2 separate regions of the Homo sapiens genome follow, and region 2 is linked to region 1. Evidence: fine-mapped expression QTL. A gene starts in region 1. The other region holds a variant in brackets. All regions are shown on one strand. Distances are between the middles of the regions.

What was found. PIP is the estimated chance that this variant, and not a neighbour inherited with it, causes the effect. A credible set is the group of variants that fine-mapping cannot tell apart.
Region 2: its variant is the best candidate, but not a certain one, in a credible set for the expression of HIC2 in whole blood (TOPMed, PIP 0.61).

What each region holds. Positions count from the first base shown.
Region 1 is chr22:21,415,390-21,419,766 of GRCh38, reverse strand. HIC2 (HIC ZBTB transcriptional repressor 2) reads right to left here and starts at 2,396. Exons shown (of 3, transcript NM_015094.3): 1 at 2,207-2,396.
Region 2 is chr22:21,442,305-21,446,681 of GRCh38, reverse strand. It overlaps HIC2 (HIC ZBTB transcriptional repressor 2), which reads right to left. Exons shown (of 3, transcript NM_015094.3): 2 at 3,825-3,923; 3 at 1-1,760. The coding sequence starts at 3,850. Among named protein-coding and RNA genes, the nearest start is that of TMEM191C, 23 kb to the left of the region's middle. The variant T/CCT (reference allele first, on the strand shown) is at 2,112.

The DNA.
Region 1 (4,377 bases):
TGAGGATTAATCTGCGACTGCAGCTTGTGGAGAAGGCTGGGCTGCTGGCCAAGACCAAGGATCGAGGATGGGATCGTGCCTACCTGTCCCCAGAGCAGGTATCATGCAGCACAACAGGACTCATCACCCCTGCCCCACCTGCGCCTTCTCTTCTCCTTCCAGCAACTTCGACAATCATTTCGGTTTTGCTTTAATTAAAGGCCTGACTCCCTCGGGCTGCTTCTTCCTCTACACAGAGGCAGCAACCAGAGGGAGATTTTTCTTTTCAGGAATCGGTCGTAAAAACTCAGTGACTAATCTACAAGTTCCAACAACTGGCAGAAAAACACCGCAGGGAGAGGTTGCTGGGCACACAGCAGCACTCAGAGCCAACTGACCAGAGAAGCTGGGCCACAGGCACTCTACTACAACCTCCCTCCCCCAGCCCGACACTGGCCTGCCGACCCACCTGAGAGCTCTGACCTCCCAAGGCAGGCAGCTGGGGAGCCTCTTCCCAGCCTTCCAAGTCTACTGCTCGTCCTGTGGGACCCAGAGATCTTCACAGTCTCAATGGCACAAGACGGAACGTTCACTTCCAGGCAACAATCCTGCGCCACAGGACTCAGTTCAGCCCCCAAGTATCAGACTCCCGGCCCTGTTCTTGGTGTTCAGAGCCCACTAAACCAGCAGTCTTGCCACACAGCTTTGTCTCCAGAGGCCAGCTCATCTGCTTTTTTTCACACTACTCCAGCAACCCTGCTCCACCAAGCACGCACACTCTCCTTGACACAGGGCTCCAGACCAACCACATGGCCTGTGCTCCTGAAAATGCCTGCCTGAAGGCCCAGGGAGTCCAGACACTGGCAGATGAGAATGGACGAAAAGAAGCCAAGCCAGAAGCCAGGAAGCAATAAATGCTAGACCCAGAAAGGCCTTAGGTTTGAGTGACCCAGCTCCATCCCTCCATCCTGGATCCTTGGAGGACAGCCCCAAGTTCAGCCTAGGAGCTCCCAAGGCCCCTCCACTACCTGCCAGCTCTCCGACAGCACAAGAGACACAGCAATCCCACATCAGTCAACAACCCACCGCCACAGGATTCCTAGGGGCAAGGCTCTGCCCCTCCCCCCAGCACATATGTCAGAGGGGTGGCTTCCCTGGGTTACACCCCTCCTGCTGTTGGGGGAGTGGGGGGTCGGGGAACACAGCTTTCCAGATGTGCTTGGCAACTCCTACTAGAAAAGACTAGGGGTGCGGGGGACAGGAGAAGACATGGATAAATAACTTTAACACCGCTCCAACCCATCCGGCTCAGCACTGGGCTCCCTTACACAGGCAGTCCCAGGCAGTTCTGGGTGGGGCCGTTGGGAGCATTATCTGGCCTCATTCCCTCCTCTCAGCAAGTCACTGCCCCCCAGGGAGAGGCATTCCCCCCCACCCCCCCCAACCACGCACACACCCAGGCCTGTGTGAATATGAACCATCTTGGAAGATAAACAGAGAGTGACAAGCTGGGGCCCCTCAGCCCCCTCCCTCAGCCAGCCGGTCCCTTCCCCCTGAAAGCCGACCCCCTCCCCCAAGCCCATCTCTCTTCCTGCCAAGCGGCTGCCTACAGGAGAGGTCTGGGGGCAGGGCAGCGAGCCCACCAGCCGCAGAGCCCGGCCCTCTGGGAGCGGCCCCTCCAGGCCCGCCCCTGCCCCTGCCGTGGCCAGTCTTCCCGCGGGGAGGAGGCAAGAGGAGAGGAGACCGCAGACGGTGCAGGACCGCAGTCCTGGAAATCGCAAAATCCTCTAGCGAGGGGGCGAACGCGGGCGCAGGGCCGTTTGCATAATGGGAGCCCTCCCGCCTGTCAGGCAGCGCAGCTCGCCCGACGCTGTTCGGATTAGATTGCTAATGAAAAGGCACAAAGAGCCGGCGCCCGCTCGCCCGCCGACCCCCGCTCCGCAGACCCGCGCCGCCTGGGCCTGGCGCGGCCCGGTGGGCTTTGTGCCCCGGGTGCCCCACCGCCCGCGCCCCTCCGGGCATCTGGCCCACAAAGCCCGGGCCTGCCAGGGGTCCCGCGTGCGCCCCAGCCCAGGCCCGCCAGACGCTAGCGCGTCCCCCACGCGCGCAGTCCCACGTCGCCCGGGCGCGCGCGCGTCCACGCCCCTCTCCCCGGGGACGCGCCCAGCCCGCGGCCCCGGCCCCCGCCCGCTCCCCGCGCCCCCCGCCCCACAAGGCCGCCCCTCACCTCGTGTGCGTCGGCGGCGGCGCTCCGCCCGCCGGCCGGCCGGCCCTACCAGCGGCCCTTGTCCTCAGCGCCCGGCTCGCGCCGCACGCGCCCGCCCCGTCCGCCTGCCGCCAGCCCGGCTCGGCTCCCCGCCTAGCGCGCCCCGAGCGCCGCTCACAGCCGCCCGCCCAGCGCCATCTTGGAAGCTTGTGACGTCGGCGCCGCCCGCTCACCCCTGACCCACATCTGAATGGGCGAGCGGCGGGGCGGGGACAGGGGGCAGCTGGGGGCGTGGCCTGTGAACAGGGGCGGGGCCTGCGGGGGCGGGGCCGGGCCGGACAGCGGTCCCAGCACTAGGCGGGGCGGGCTGCCGGGGTCCGGCGCCGTGGGGGAGGGGTGCGCGGGAGGAGCCGGGGACCCAGACCCCGGACATCTAACCGGACTCCGACCTCAAGCGCCAGGGCAGGACCGCGACCTCGCCCCTGAAATACCCGGACCGCATACCGGCCCCCGGGACAGGGACCCTGGCCCCCCCCGACAGGCTGACGCCCACCCCCTCAAACTCTGGTGGACTTACCCCCTTTTAGCCCTACCCTGACCCCTAGGAGCCCCGAATTAGGGACCTCTATCGGCCTACGCGCCCCCTCCCCGACCCCTTTGCGACCCCTGCTCGACGCTCCCTGCGGTTGCCCGAGGCTCAAAGGCGCAGCCAGCAGTGACTGCAAGCTCGGGGGTCTGGGCTCCTGGGGAAGCCCGGGCTGGTTGGGTGCAAAAGAGAAGGGGCGCCCCTCCCGTGACCCCAGCGCCCCTCGGGCCCCCGCGGGCGCACCCCCGCGAACCCTACCTGCTCCGAGGGCGCGGAGGACCCAGCACGCTGCGCTCAGCCAGCCCCTTCCGGTGGCCGCAGCCCCTCGCAGGCCCCAGGGGTCAAGCGCCTGCCCGAGCCGGCCCACCAGGACCCGGGCTCCCGGCCGCCATGCAGATAGCCTTCCCAGGGGCTGGGCTGGCCTGAGCCGCCACTGCTTCTCTAGGGAGCTAGTTAATGGACCGCTCTCTACTTTGAACACCAAACAAAGGAACACACCACTATCGAGGTCGCCCAAGTCCAAGAGGAGCCCAGGTCTGCCTTACAGGGAAGTTGTGCCCCAGCTCCAGTCAAGATCAAAAACCAGTTTCAATAACCCTTCGCCAAGCTGATGATGCAACCTTTCTTTCCTAATGGATGTATAGGTTTAATGTCATCCTAACAACATTTCTTAGACTTCACAAAATTCTAAGTTCACCTGGAAAAATAAATAGCCGAAAACAGCTATGGTTTTCCCCCCTTGGGAACAAAAGCAGGCATGAGGGTAGACTTGCCCTAACAGATATCAAAACAAATTGTAAAGCTACCGCAGGCATTTCAGTGTGGTACAGAACAGGAAATAGAATAGAAAGCCTAGAAACATCCTAGAAATGGTAAGAACACAATAGATGAAAAAGGAAATATCAAACATCTGTGGAAAAAAAAGAGCTATCAAACATCCCTGAAGAAGAACAAGAATATTCCACAAATAGAGCCTAGCAGAGGACTCACTATTTGAAGGAACGACTGAAAAAAAAAGTCAACCATTCTACTAACCCAAGACATATAAATTAAAACTATAGGCCGGGCGCGGTGGCTCACGCCTGTAATCCCAGCACTTTGGGAGGCCAAGGCGGGCGGATCACGAGGTCAGGAGATCGAGACCATCCTGGCTAACACGGTGACACCCCGTCTGTACTAAAAATACAAAAAATTAGCCAGGCGAGGTGGCGGGCGCTTGTAGTCCCAGCTACTCGGGAGGCTGAGGCAGGAGAATGGCGTGAACCCCGGGGGGCGGAGCCTGCAGTGAGCCGAGATCGTGCCACTGCACTCCAACCTGGGCGACAGCGAGACTCCGTCTCAAAAAAATAAATAAATAAATAAAATAAAACTATAAGAAGCTGGGTTTTCTCCTAAACAAATTAAAAATCAGTTTCAAGTGATAACCTTCAAACACAAGGTCTGATAGGTAATCACTCTCATATACTTTTGGAAGCACATAAATCACCTCAAAATTCCTGGACATGAGTTTGGCGGTATGAGCCAAAAGTTGTTTTTTTGGGGTTCTTTTGTCTTTTTTTGTTTTTTGGAGACTCGGAGTCTCACTCTGTTGCCCAGGCTGGAGTGT
Region 2 (4,377 bases), 27 kb before region 1:
CCCCGCACAGCTGGCACTCGTAAGGTTTCTCGCCCGAGTGCACACGCATGTGCTCCGTGAGGCGGTACTGACGGGTGAAGCGCATGCCACACTCATCGCAGGCGAAGGGCTTCAGGCCCAGGTGGCTCCGCATGTGACGCGTCATGGTGCCGCGCTGCGTGAACATTTTGCCACAGATGTTGCAGGGGAAGGGCCGTGTCAGCCAGTGCGTCTTCTCGTGCTGCCGCAGCGTGGCTGGGTCCTTGTAGGTCTTCTCGCAGACCGAACACTTGAAGGGCCGGGGCTCAGCCGTGTAGGCCGCACTGGGTGCTGACAGGTCCTCGGCCTCCTCCTCGGCACCCCCACTGCCTGTCTCGTAGGCCCCCTCTTCCTTGATGAACAGCTCTTCCTCCGTGTGAGTCTCCACGTGCGCATTGAGCTGCTCAGAGCTGGGGAAGCCCTTGGCGCAGGGAATGCACACATACAAGTTGTCCCCGTAGGACACCGTCTCGTAGCCCTCCTGCCGGTACATGTAGTGGGCGCTGGCATGGCCGCTGCCCCCCTCGCTCCCGCTCTGCGCACTGTCTTCACTTGCATCCTTGCCGTTCTCCTCCTCCTCCTTGCAGGGGTAGGGGGGCTCCCCATAGGGCCCGCTAGGGCCAGCCCCACTAGCCAGGATGCCATTGGGAACCCTGTCCCCGACCCCCTCACCCTCCTCTCCCGGGCAGGGACCCTTGGGCCCTGCTTCTCTCCGCTCAAAGGGGGAGCCAGCCACAGGCTCCTTCTTGCCCCACTCCTTCTTCCGAGTGGAGTGCCGGAGGCTCTTCCGAGGCTGCCCACCAGGCGCCTCCAGCAGGCTCAGGTGGTTGTCCTCGGCCCCCTCCAGATCCATGGGCTCATCAGGGGTGCCCCCCAGCTCAGAATAAGAGGCACTGTTGGCAACGGGAGGAGCAGAGGCCGCAGGGGGCGAGCCATGTTGGCTGTCGCTCAGCTGGGCTGCGTCATCGGGAGTGAGGTGGGGACCTGGGGTGGCAGGGGGCAAGGGTGGGCTTTTCTTGGACAGGTCCAAGCCCAGCTCCTGCTCGCAGCCCCCGCTGCTCCCGTTGGTGCTGCTGCTGCAGCCCCCCAGACCCGCCTCCCCGCCAGCTGGGCAGACAGCCCGGCCCAGACCTTGCACGCTATCCTGGTTAGAGCCACCAAGAAAGAGTTCATCGTCTGAGCCTTTGGCTTGGGGGAGCTCCTGGGGGGCGTGGGCCCCCTTGCGCCCATCCACGAGCCCCTGATACCGAGCTTGGATGACAGAGGCCGTGGACAGCCGCTGGCTGCGGGGGGGCCGCCCCATGCCAGTGGACCCCGCCCTCCCAGAGCCAAAGGGCTTGCCGGCTCGCTTGAGTTTGCGGCGGCAGAGGGCTGCCAACTCGGGCAGCTGGAGGTAGCTGGCGGCAGTGAGGAGGGTGCTGAAGTTGGGCTCGGCTGGCTGGTCGCTGGGCAGCAGCTTGCCTGTGTAGATGAAGTCCAAGATCTGCTGGAACACTGTGGAGCTGACCATGTCTGTGTCCAGGTTGATGAGGTTGTCGTGCAGGACCAGGGACTTGAAATAGATGCTGCTGGCGGCTAGGACGTTCTTGTGGGCCCGGAAGATGGAGTTCTCCACCATGATGATGACGTCACACAGGAAGCCCTTGGTCCTCTGCTGGTTCAGCTGCAGCAGGAGCTGCTTCGAGTGGCTGGGCAGCTCCATGTCGGGCCCCATGTCCCCGCGCCCTGCCCACGCGCACCACCTGTGGGCAAGAACAGGCACGCATGCGTCAGATGACTGGCACACTCGGACCAGGGCTCTGGGGCAGGGTGGGGCTCGACGAGGCAAAGGGCCTCAGAACTGACCCCACATAGGGCAGGAGCCCCTGCGGCACAGTACACGGCACATAAGCCCACAATGCCCACCACATGCAGGCGCAGTACACGTGTCACCTCACTGAGGACTCAAACTGAGAAGGGACAGAGGCCCCTGCCCCATTTGCACTAATGAGAAAATGGAGGTGGAGGGTGATGAGGGGACAAATAGAGAAACTGGGATTTGCATTTGGTTTCACAGCCCGGGCTACTGTCTCTACACTAAATGAAGTCAACCC[T/CCT]CAGGGACCAGAAGGGGACCCAAAAATGACCAGATGGCTTTAAACTTCGGGAAGCAGAGGACTCCGTGAGAGGAGCTTGTCTTGAAAGCTGGCAAAAATCCCCCAAAACTAAATGGTGGTTCCTTTTGAAATACGGCAGGGCCCAAATCAAACTGCCAGCAGTCATGTTGCTGCCTCCCAGATGCTGCAGTCAGCCTGCAGCCAGCCCTGCCTCTCCCCAAGGCCCTGGGCTGCCTCGCACTCTGGGCGGGCGCCAAGTGCTGCCCCAGCCTGGGCTTCCAGCTGCCAAGGAGGAAAGGTAGCTTAGGCCAAGCACCTGGCACCACCTGAACCCTCCGTCCTCTCTAGGAAGGGCAGCACCATCTGGGCCTAGGAAAGGTGGACAGCTGGCCTCCATCACACAGAATGGCACAGGCACTAACTGAGATCAGTAAGCAAGAAGCACACTGACGCCGCTGGTCTCTGCAGGAACTCTGACGGCCCAGGTGTGTTCCTGCTTATGCAGCAGCAAGACATGGGGTTCTGAGCGGGTGCTCCTCGCCACGCTTCCCATCCCCACTGAGCAGCCTCCTCTGCCATGGACCAGGCACCCCACAGTGGGAGTACAAGGGCAGGGCAAATGGGTGCACAGTGGGCACCAGATAGACGCCGGGGGGAGGAGGGAAATGTCCCTCCAAGGGCGGAGGCAAGGACTGTGGCCGGCGGTATAAAGAATGACTCTGGAAGGCTTTGAATGACTCAAAGCCATCCTCAGCCCTAAGCCCAACTCCCCAGTACAAAACGCAGTACTCCCAGCTCCATCCTCTCACCCCTACCAGAGTCCCTCAGAGAATGGCTCAGCAGGAGGGTGCTGGGGAAGGCATGCCAGTGTCCAGGTGGCCACCTGTGCCCCGGATAGGCTCACAGGCTTCCACAGGGCAGGGGGCCAGTGAAAACATGAACTTTCCTCATGGCTGACGGACAACCGAGCAGCGGGGCCCACAGGCAGCTCTGAGCCTCGCAGTTCAGGGTCCAGTCTCTCAGCAGCTGAACTACTCTGAGCCCACCGCCCTCTGGGATCTACTGCCCCTCCCAGAGTGTCCAGCCCTGCCTCCCAGAGCAGAGGCCTGGAAAGGGTCCCACCCTACCCAACCTTCTCATGACAGAAACTCTCCCCAGCCTCATGCCTACCCTTGTTTGCAAAGACAAAGAAAAACCCTAACATTCACAGGCCCCTGAAGGTGCCAGAGCTCAATGTGAACACGCAAGGGTGCAACACAGCCTGGAACACCGCTGGCACTCAGAGCCTAACAGCAAGAGGCAGCAAGCACCCGCCAGCGGCTCTCTGCCTAGCAGCCCAGCCCACAGCAGTTCAGGAGGGTGCTCATGGGCTGGAGACTTCGTGAACCAATCCTCCTCCACTCCCTGCCCGCCTCAACCCACCAGGCAGGGACAAAGAGCCCCCAAGGTGTGGCTTCCACACTTGGCCCCAGTAACCTAGCCCCCAGAAAACATCAGTGCCGGCTCTGCCAGCACCCAGACACCTGGTACCCCGAGACTGGCAAGGGGACTGGAAGAGGGCAGTGGCCTCCAGGCTCCCTCCACACTGCCCAGTGCTGTGTGCACACAAAGGACCACGGGTCAGACAGATAGAGGCCGAGCTGTGGGGCTGTGTGCCACCCAGAAACTCCGGGGAAAGGGGCCAGTGGCGGTCCCCCCTCCCCTGCGCCTCACCGGAGTGCCAAGGGCCCAGACACCATGTGAGCAGCAGCCAGCGGCGGGGGGGGCTCCTGAGCGCGTGGCCTTCCTGGGGGTGCATCAATGCCTGGTCACCTGGGGAAGAGAAGACGAACACAGTCACCCAGACAGCCATCAGCGAAGAAGGGAGGGAAGGGCGATGAAGGGACGCACCTGGGGGTCTCTGGCTGGGGCACCAGGGGCAGCCCAGCAGGAGACTGTGGCCACAGAGCCTGGTAGTTGGATCTGACAGCCAGGAAGAGTAAGGACCAGCGAACAGGTCTAGGGAGTTCGGTGGGTGCAATGCCTGCCCCTCTAACACACACAGGAGATTAAGGACACCCAGGGGCCACCTAGGCCAGGGGGCGCTGGTGGCAGACACACAATTCTTGGCCTGCGGGTGTGGTAGCAGGAGGCCTGGGCAGGGCCCTTCCCAAGCTGGCCACATTTACATAACAAAAGGTCAAAATTGGAGCCACTTGTGCAAGGGCTATTTATAAGAACCAGTCTCAACCGCTTTTGGCTCCCCCGTTCCTTCCCTTCCTGATCT